2 separate regions of the Homo sapiens genome follow, and region 1 is linked to region 2. The links come from fine-mapping of genetic effects on gene expression. A gene starts in region 2. The other region holds a variant in brackets. All regions are shown on one strand. Distances are between the middles of the regions. Region 1 overlaps WDR70 (WD repeat domain 70). Region 2 holds the start of WDR70 (WD repeat domain 70).

Region 1 (5,379 bases), 310 kb after region 2:
GTGGTCATGCTGGTGGTGGTATTAGCATGGGGTTAGGAAGCTGGCAAGCACAGGTCTGTGTGTGCCCTCTGTGCATGTTCATGCAGCCAGGGGTTGGCTGCTCAGGGTTGGGGAGGGTCCAGTGTTCTCCATCTCTATTTTCACTCTGGCAGCAGTGTTGGCACTGGGATGGGGTGCTGGTGGGGGTGGGGCTGATGGGCTCTGTGCCCACCAAGGCACTGACTGCAATGGTGGTATAGTGGGGGTGAGGAGGTGGTGTGCGCTCTTACCAGTAACAGTGTTAGGACAGGTAACAGGCAAACACTGGTTGGGCAGGGAAGGCAAAATCCACTCATGTAGACACACACCAGCAGAGTGATGTAGGTGGTTGCCGTGGGCCTGGGGGAAGCTGCAGTGAGGGGAGGGAGTGGGCAGGCTGGTGCATGGCCACAGGGGGCTGCCCCACTGGAGCTCTCCACTGGTCAGGCATGGTCTGCCAGTGTAGGAGCTATGATATAGGCCCCCAGGGTTGCCGAGGCTGCACTGCAAGCAGACCTAGCCAGGCTGGGACCCTGGAAGAGGCCAGCTGACTTAGGGGTACTCAGGTCAGACCAGCCCCATCTGATGGGCAAGACTGCCCCTACAGTGTTCATGTCAAACAGTTTCCCTACAGCCAAAGTCTTCTACGGAAGCAAGTCAATCCTAGGGGTATGGGCATCCCTGCTGGTGCTCTACCACAGATGCTCCCACACCAAACTCTATTGGCTGGCACGCTGCCCCTACTACTTTTCTGAGCAGCTCTCCCTGCCAACTAAGTGTCCATGGTGGTTGAAGGGTCTCTTCCTCCTGGGATTCTAAAGGCCCGTGGCGAGAGTGGGTTGCTCCTTGCTATTTCACTTCACCTGCTCCCCAGGAGTCACTGGGGGCCAGAAATGAGTCCAGTGTGCTCTAACCCCACACAAGTTCCCAGCTTCCTCCCCCTTCAGCCCAGCTTCTGTGTCTTCTGTCTACTCGCAGTGTCTTCCCTCTGAAGATCTGCTAGGAGCGTGCCAGTCATCCTGGTTCCTTGGTGGCAGCTGTTCCACCCGGCTGCATGTAGTCAGCTGTCTTGCCCAAATCTCCCCCAACACTGTGAAGCCTAGGCGGGAAGATCGCTTGAGCCCAGGAGTTCATGACCAGCTGGGCGACAAAGTGAGACCACCCCCCGCCCCAGCTCTACAAAATAAAAGTATAAAAACCAGCCAGGCATGGTGGCTTGTGTTGTAGTCACAGTACTTGGGAGGCTGAGGCAGGAAGATTGCTTGAGCCTGGGAGGTTGAGGCTGGAGTGAGCCATGATTATGTCACTGCACTCCAACCTGGGTGACAGAAGGACACCCTGTCTCACAAAGGGAAAAAAAAAAGACTTTATGGAAGACAGAGTTTTCTGTTGATAATTTGTCAGACTGTCAGAGAAGAAAAACTAGATTTAGTCAGCATAGCCACAGAAGACAACCAGGACCCATGAGTAGTTGTTAGAAGTGAGTCTTGGACCCAGCTTAAAAAGTTGTTGCCAGTTAGAGCCTAGGCGGGAAGATCGCTTGAGCCCAGGAGTTCATGACCAGCTGGGCAACAAACTGAGACCACCACCCCCGGCTCTACAAAATAAAAGTATAAAAACCAGCCAGGCGTGGTGGCTTGTGCCTGTAGTCCCAGTACTTGGGAGGCTGAGGCAGGAGGATTGCTCCAGAAATTGACTGATATTCCTTATAATGTAATGCATTTTGAATTTCCAGAGGCTCCATGACCATCTGCTGAGAAAAGAGGTATACAGACAATTTTTCCAATTGGGAGTTTGTATTGTGTGATCCCAGACAGGGCCTTCAAAACTCTGGGATTTTGTGCTTGCGTTTTCCATCTTGGTGAATATTTGAGTCTTGATATTCTCCAAATCATAGTGTAAGGCACACCTAAGAATAAGAGGCCTACGAGATTGTGCCATTGCACTCCAGCCTAGGCAACAAGAGCAAAACTCTGTCTCAAAATAATAATAATAATAATAATAATAATAATAATAAGCCTATATAAGGTAGTTAATTATCAATCTCAGCTTCCTAAAGAACGATATTCTTTGCTTAGGATGATTATAACAGCAGTTAAAGGACAAGTTGCAGTTTTAGATTCCCGACATTATGCCTGAAGTGTTCTTCAGTTAGGTTGACATTGTTTTCAAAGTGTGAGGATATTTGTCATAATGGACTGTCCAAGTGTTGATGTTTGATGCAAATTTTAGGTCACCTTTGTCTCTTTTTCCTCATTGGAATATACTTTTGTTTCTGGTTAAGGTGAAGTTAATAATTGAAGAGCACTTTTTGATATAAAATTTGGGAGGTCTTCATCTCAATCAACTAAAGACATTGTGCCTCTTTGTTTTATTAGGTCCTTTAAAAGACAAAATGAATTAATTTTGAGTGCATCTCTCCCTCTCCTGTGGGATCTTAATTATTAATATCCAGCCATTTATTACTTTAAAGAGGTGTTGCAATGGAATATGTTGGAGGTCAGAAAGACTGGATGGGGCTTGTTTTGTAGCATATATTCACTCATTCTGCATTATAAATAATGAATTCTAAAAGTTTCAAAACATTACACCTCCAATATAATGTTCCTTTAAAGGGAATCCTAAATGAGGAGACATAAACACGTAGCAGATGAATATTTGGTGAAGTCTCCTCATACTACAGCAAGACAAAATCACCTGTAGTCAAAATCCCATATTCTCATTCCGTTCATTATATTGTATCTACACTATCACCTGTTAGATCTAGCAGAATTTTTTTTTTTTTTAATTTCAGAAACAGATTACTTTTTCTTTACTTGAGCACTGGAAGGCTATATGTCTTTCTACCTTAGAATCCCACTCAGGGTAGTGAAAAGCACAGGGAAGGAAGACCAATTTAGGGAGCATCAGATTCACAATACCATCTCTTTTCTTCTCC[A/G]GAGCAACAAGTTAAGACTGTCATATGGAACTGTCTGCATGCTCTGGGCTCACACTGAAGTTTGTGTGATGTGAATCCACTGGACTCTATAACTTTTAAGGTTCTTTATCTCACTTTGTTTACTGGTATATATATGCATACACATCTATATGCATGTGTTTACTTATATTTTCAAATATCGACATTCAAGATTTTATCTTATTAATAAAGTATATATTGATCAGTTAATTGAATGATAAAGTATTATGCATTTGCCTGTTTTGCCTTTTCCCTAAGGGTCATAGAGCTGTAAATGACCCTGGAAATCATTTACTTCAATCTCTTTATTTTACAGAAGACAGAAGTGTGAACCAGACAAGCTAAGTAATTTGTCCCAGGTCACAATGCTAGCTTTTGCTTGAACTGAATCTAGATTTTGTGCCTCCTGGTTCCTGGCCCAGTGCCCTTTTTACTGTACTAAACTGTCTTATCACTCATGAAATGATAGGTCTTTCTTCTATTTGGATATCTATACGTATTGCTTAACATTAAAAACAAACAAAACTTTTAAAACAAACAAATAAAAAACTAAATTCATTTAGGCCAAATGAAGTACAGGACTTTTGGGTAAACTGCTACCACTGTTTATAAGATCTTCCAAAAGTTTCATTTAGAGTTTAGTAGTTGGTAACTTGATGGGATATAAGGAAGTGGCAAATTTTCCTTATTGAGGTTGGTAGCAGAGTTTCGTTTGTCCTAGGAACAGAATATTCCCAGTCTGTTCACATGTGTTCAGAATGATCATTTAAAAATAAGCAAATTTAGGTTTCCAAGATGGCCAAATAGGAACAGCTCTGGTCTGCAGCTCCCAGTGTGATCGACGCAGAAGATAAGTGATTTCTGCATTTCCAGCTGAGGCACCTGGTTCATCTCATTGGGACTGGTTGGACAGTGGGTGCAGCCCATGGAGGGGGCAAGCCAAAGCAGAGCGGGGCATCGCCTCACCTGGGAAGCGCAAGGGGTCGGGGGAATTCCCTTTCCTAGCCGAGGGAAGCCGTGACAGACTGTACCTGGAAAAATGAGACACTGCTGCCCAAATACTGCACTTTTCCCAAGGTCTTAGCAACCGGCAGATAAGTAGATTCTCTCCTGTGCCTGGCTCGGCGGGTCCCACACCCACACAGCCTTGCTCACTGCTAGCGCAGCAGTCTGAGATCGAACTTCAAGGCGGCAGCCTGGCTGGGGGAGGGGCGTCCGCCATTGCTGAGGCTTGAGTAGGTAAACAAAGCAGCTAGGAAGCTTGAACTGGGTGGAGCCCACTGCAGCTAAGCAAGGCCTACTGCCTCTATGCACTCCACCTCTGTGGGCAGGGCATAGCTGAACAAAAGGCAGCAGACAACTTCTGCAGACTTAAATGTCCCTGTTGAGAGCTCTGAAGAGAGCAGTGGTTCTCCCAGCATGGCGTTTGAGCTCTGAGAACGGACAGACTGCCTCCTCAAGTTGGTTCCTAACCCCTGTGTAGCCTAACTGGGAGACACCTCCCAGTAGGGGCCGACAGACACCTCATATAGGTGGGTGACCCTCTGGGACGAAGCTTCCAGAGGAAGGATCAGGCTGCAATATTTGCTGTTCTGCAATATTTGCTGTTCTGCAGCCTCTGCTGGTGATACTCAGGCAAACAGGGTCTGGAGTGGACCTCCAGCAAACTCCAACAGACCTGCAGCTGAGGGACCTGACTGTTAAAAGGAAAACTAACAAACAGAAAGGAATAGCATCAACATAAACAAAAAGGACATCTACACCAAAACCCCATCTGTAGGTCACCAACATCAAAGACCAAAGGTAGATAAAACCACAAAGATGAGGAGAAACCAGAGCAGAAAAGCTGAAAATTCTAAAAACCAGAGTGCCTCTTCTCCTCCAAAGATCGCAGCTCCTCGCCAGCAATGGAACAAAGCTGGACAGAGAATGACTTTGACGAGCTGACAGAAGTAGGCTTCAGAAGGTCGGTAATAACAAACTTCTCCGAGCTAAAGGAACATGTTTGAACCCATCGCAAGGAAGCTAAAAACCTCGAAAAAAGGTTAGACGAATGGCTAACTAGAATAAACAGTGTAGAGAAGACCTTAAATGACGTGATGGAGCTGAAAACCATGGCACGAGAAGTTCATGACTCATGCACAAGCTTCAATAGTCAATTCAATCAAGTGGAAGAAAGGGTATCAGTGATAGAAGATCGCATTAATGAAATAAAGTGAGAAGACAAGGTTAGAGAAAAAAGAGTAAAAAGAAATGAACAAATCCTCCAAGAAATATGGGACTATGTGAAAAGACCAAATCTATGTTTGATTGGTGTACCTGAAAGTGATGGGGAGAATGGAACCAAGTTGGAAAACTGTCTTCAGGATATTATCCAGAACTTCCCCAACCTAGCAAGGCAGGCC
Region 2 (5,379 bases):
CCCCAAAGTTTGTGTCTACTATTTTATTATTTTTGCATCACTCTATTATATTGACTTTGGAAACAAAAGACATTATTCTATTTATAGCATTCTGTTTTTAGTAGTGGAATTTCCATTTACAAAATATAGTAATTCTCGACTGCTGAAAATGTCAAATCCTAGAAAACATAGCATTCCTATGTGTGATGTTAATTCCATGGTGAACTTATGGCACTGAAATGGTGTGACAACAAGGCAGTCACAATGTTGTCAATATTCCACAATGATACTGTGATTGAAGTAGACAACAGATGGAAAGAAAACTAAGAAGCCATGTGTCATTGTGGATTATAACGATAATATGGGAGCAGTGGACTTGGCTGATCAGATGCTCACTTCTTATCCAGCTTAGCGCCAAAGGTACAAGGTTTGGTATAAGATATTCTTTCATAGGCTGTGTGCAGTGGCCCACGCCTGTAATCCTAGCACTTAGGGAGGCTGAGGCGGGTGGATCGCTTGAGCTCAGGAGTTCAAGACCAGCATGGGCAACATGATGAAACCCTATCTCTACAAAAAATACAAAAATTAGGCCGGGCACAGTGGCTCACGTCTGTAATCCCAGCACTTTGGGAGGCTGAGGCGGGCATATCACTTGAGGTCAGGAGTTTGAGACCAGCCTGGCCAACATGGTGAAACTCTGTCTCTACTAAGAATGCAAAAATTAGCCAGGGGTGGTGGCAGGGCCTGTAATCCCAGCTACTCGCAAGGCTGTGGCAGAATTGCTTGAACCCAGGAGGCGGAGGTTGCAGTGAGCTGAGATCGCGCCACTGCACTCCAGTCTGGGCAATGGAGCGAGACTCTGTCTCAAAAAAAAAAAAAAAAGTCGGGTGTGGTGGCGGTCACATGTAATCCCAGCTACTTAGGAGGCTGAGGCACAAGAATCGCTTGAACCCAGGAGGTGGAGGTTCATTGAGCCGAGATTGTGCCACTGCATTCCAGCCTGGGTGACAGAGTGAGATTCTGTCTCAAAAAGAAAGAGATTCTTCTCCACCTTCTAAACGTTAAAGTGTTGAACTCCCACATTCTGTTTAAGAAGGACAATCCTGAGCACACGATTAGCCTTGTAAACTTTAGACTGACAGGCCAGGTGCAGTGGCTCACGCCTTTAATCGCAGAACTTTGGGAGGCTGAGGTGGGCAGATCACAAGGTCAGGAGATTGAGACCATCCTGGCTAACACGGTGTAAACCCTGCCTCTACTAAAAATAGAAAAAATTAGCTGGGCGTGGTGGCGGGTGCCTGTAGTCTCAAATACTAAATAGCCGGGCATGGTGGCGCACACCTGTAGTCCCAGCTGCTCGGGAGGCTGAGGCAAGAGAATCGCTTGAACCTGGGAGGCAGAGGTTGCAGTCAGCTGAGATCACGCCACTGCACTCCAGCCAAGGCAACAGAGGGAGACTCAGTCAACAACAACAACAACAACAACAAAAAGGCAGAGCGCGGTGGCACGGGGCCTGTAATCCCAGCACTTTGGGAGGCCAAGGTGGGCAGATCACCTGAGGTCAGGAGTTCAAGACCAGCCTGGCCAACATAGCAAAACCCCGTCTCTACTAAATACACAAAAATTAGCCGGGTGTGGTGGCAGGCGCCTGTAATCCCAGCTACTCAGGACACTGAGGCAAGAGAAGAGCTTGAACCTGGGTGGCAGAGGTTGCAGTGAGCCGAGATCACGCCATTGCACTCCAGCCTGGGCAACAGAGTGAGACTCTGCCTCAAAAAAAAAAAAAAAAAAAAAAAAAGCAAAGGGTGTCGCCTGTAATCCCAGCACTTTGGGAGGCCGAGGCAGGCGGATCACTTGAGGCCAGGAGTTCGAAACCAGCCTGGCCAACATGGCAAAACGTCGTGTCTACTAAAAATACAAAAAATTAGCTGCGCGTGGTGGTGGACGCCTGTAATCCCAGCTACTTGGGAGGCTGAGACAGGAGAATCGCTTGAACCCGGGAGGCGGAGGTTGCAGTGAGCCGAGATCACGCCATTGCACTCCAGCCTGGGCGACAGAGGCTCCGTCTCAAAACAAAAACAAAAACAAAAAAAAAACAAACCAAAACAAAAAACCAAAAATTAGCCGGCACCTGTAATCCCAGCTACTCGGGAGGCTGAGGCAGGAGAATCGCTTGATCCCGGGAGGCAGAGGTTGCAGTCAGCTGAGATTACGCCACTGTACTGCAGCCTGGGCGACAGAGGCTCTGGCTTAAAAAAAAAAAAAAAAAAAGGGAAAGGATGTTATAGAAACTCCAGATACTACTTCTCCCCTCCAGTGGTCTGAGTTGCGCGGCGCTTTCCCGCCTGTCCGGTAGGGCGGTGCCGCGCAGAAAGCCGCGGTCCCTCTGCGGAAGGCGCCGCTCTTGGCTTCGGCGGCGCCGCTGTAGCTTGAAGGCGGTACTTCCTCCAGCATTTGCCGCAAGTTATTGGCAAGTTCCCCTGCAGTTGTTTGGGCTGTCCCTGTGGCTGGTTCTGGGGTGTGCGGCCAGCCATGGAGCGCTCTGGGCCCAGCGAAGGTGGGTTTCATGAGGCGAGTCCGGGCGGGGTGGGCCGTGTCGGGGGAGCTGGGGCGCCGCACTAACTAGGCCGCCTCTCTTTTCCTCTTGCTCCAGTGACAGGCTCAGACGCGTCGGGACCGGACCCGCAGCTTGCGGTCACCATGGGCTTCACGGGGTTCGGTGAGTGACTGCCCCAGGCAGAGACCCTCTTCCTTGTGCAGAGGTTTGAAGATCCGCAGAGTGGGAGTGGAGATCGAGCTGTCAACTCGGAATTATTGTAGCTCGGGTGCATACCTTGCAGTTTGTCAATATTCTTCTCCCATTTGTCTTCTATTCTGCGTTATCCGTTGGAACCAACTCAGATGACAGTTATGAGAGTCTGGAGAGAGAGGAAGAGAAAGGATTTTTCTAATTTTAAGTCACCAATAATGCTAAAATGAACATTTTTGTAAATAACAGCATTTGTACGAGGATTTTTAAAAATACGTAATTCGGTAGGGTAGATTTCTAAAAGAGAGTGTAGTTTATTCAGAAATATAAATACTTAAAAAGCTGAAAAATTGGGTATGTGCCTTTTAAAGCTTCTTGATGCTTATTGCCGTAATACCCATCAAAAAACTTGTTCCAGGTTATACCAAAGTTAACAGAATTAAGAATGCCATTTTTACCATATCCCTACCAACACAGAGTAGGTATTATTATTTAAAAAGAAAATTATTTAAAAAATGAAAACAAAACTTAGTAGACTGATACATGAAAAATGATTTCTCTTTATTTTCCATTTTAAAATTATAAATGCTGTTCATCCAAACATTGGGATTCTAACTTCCCTGAACCTTTTCTCAAGGTCTTCTTGTTTTCTTTTGACCAGCGTGTATTAATTCTATGATAGTAATTAAACAGTAGACTTACACATATTGGCCTTGGGTTGTGTTCACACATACTAGTTCTGTAGTTTCTCTATTCATTCTTTTTTTTTTTGGAGACGGAGTCTCGCTCAGTCGCCCAGGCTGGAGTGCGGTGGCAAGATCTCGGCTCACTGCAATCTCTGCCTCCCGGATTCACGCCATTCTCCGGTCTCAGCCTCCCGAGTAGCTGGGACTACAGGCGCCCGCCACCTCGCCCGGCTGATTTTTTTTTTGTATTTTTAGTAGAGACAGGGTTTCACCGTGTTAGCCAGGATGATCTCGATCTCCTGACCTCGTGATCCGCCCGTCTCGGCCTCCGAAAGTGCTGGGATTACAGGCGTGAGCCACTGTGCCCAGCCTTTTCTATTCTTTTTTTATTTTTTGAGATGGAGTCTCGCTCTGTCACCCAGGCTGGAGTGTACTAGTGCGATCTTCGCTCATTGCAGCCTCCTCCTCCCAGGCTTAAGCCATCCTCCCACCTTAGTCTCCTGAGTAGCTGGGACCACAGATGTGTGCCACCACACCTGGCTAATTTTTTATACTTTTGGTAGAGACGAGGTTTCACCATGTTGCCCAGGCTGATCAATCTCCTGAGCTCAAGCAGTCCGCCCACCTGAGCCTCTCAAAGTGATTACAGGCATGAGCCACCCCACCCGGTATAAATCCTTCATTTTAGTACATCATTCCTTTACTCAGGAGTGAGAAAGTTGTCCATATGTTTGTGCCAAATAGGGGAAAATTTTAAGAGTTTTGATAAAGTTACTGGGGGAGGAGGAGAATGTTTCCATGCTCATCCAGTTCCTTGTTAGAGGGCTGAGATTTCTGTTTCCCTCTTAGCTCCTTAAAGTACCTGCATTACTTCTCATGTTGCCCCTTTCGTCTTCAAGCCAACTATAATGCCTCAAATTCTTCTCAGACATTGGATCTCTCTGACTTCTTCTGCCATAGCTGTTCTGCATCTTTGCCTTTAAGGGCCAAATAGGATAGTTTCCCTATTTAAAAGTCCATAACCTTAATTATATTGCAAAGGGTAACTTTTGGGGCATTCTCCATTTTGCCTCCCCACATCAGTGTTGTTGTTTCATAGGGTAGGGATCTAGAGGAGGATGGGAAAGTTGCCTGGTTAATAGTACTTAGTGAAGGGATTGTCAGCAGAAGTTTTCTGTGACTCAAACTCCTTCTTCTGTGATATATTATGGTTATATTGGAGCCATGCTATAAACTAGACAAAGTAAGTGTTTATTGATCAGTATTGATCACCTAAAGTTTGGCCAACTTACTGCAAGACAATCACAGTCTCCCATTTGTTCATGTTTTAGGTAAAAAAGCTCGCACATTTGACTTGGAAGCAATGTTTGAACAAACTCGAAGGACAGCTGTGGAAAGAAGTCGCAAAACACTGGGTAAGAAGCTCAGATATTTGTTCTTTTATTGGTTTAAGTACTATGTATACCTCATGCAAGTATATTAAAAAAGAGAAAAGAATGTTGGCTGGGCGCGGTGGCTCATGCCTGTAATCCCAGCACTTAGGGAGGCCAAGGCGGGCAGATCACCTGAGGTCAGAAGTTTGAGACCAGCCTGGCCAACATGGTGAAACCCCATCTCAACTAAAAATACAATAATTAGCTGGGCATGGTGCAGGGGCCTGTAATCCCAGCTAGTCGTGAGGCTGAGGCAGTGGCTTCAGTTGAAGTCGGGAGGCAGAGGTTGCAGTGAGCTGATATACCCCCATTGCACTCCAGCTTGGGGGACAAGAGTGAAATTCCATCTCAGAGAACAAAGAGAGAAAAGAATGTTGTTATGCTACTTATCACTGTTGTTTTTTTTTTTTTTTGAGATGGAGTCTCGCCCTGTTGCCCAGGCTGGAGTGCAATGGCATGATCTCGGCTCACTGCAGCCTCCACCTCCCCGGTTCAAGCGATTCTCCTGCCTCTGCCTCCCGAGTAGCTGGGA

What was found. PIP is the estimated chance that this variant, and not a neighbour inherited with it, causes the effect. A credible set is the group of variants that fine-mapping cannot tell apart.
Region 1: its variant is the best candidate, but not a certain one, in a credible set for the expression of WDR70 in blood mononuclear cells (TOPMed, PIP 0.85).

Annotation. Positions count from the first base shown.
Region 1 is chr5:37,684,952-37,690,330 of GRCh38, forward strand. All of the region lies in intron 10 of WDR70 (WD repeat domain 70), which reads left to right. Among named protein-coding and RNA genes, the nearest start is that of GDNF-AS1, 150 kb to the right of the region's middle. The variant A/G (reference allele first, on the strand shown) is at 2,957.
Region 2 is chr5:37,376,857-37,382,235 of GRCh38, forward strand. WDR70 (WD repeat domain 70) reads left to right here and starts at 2,462. Exons shown (of 18, transcript NM_018034.4): 1 at 2,462-2,536; 2 at 2,633-2,698; 3 at 4,746-4,829. The coding sequence starts at 2,512.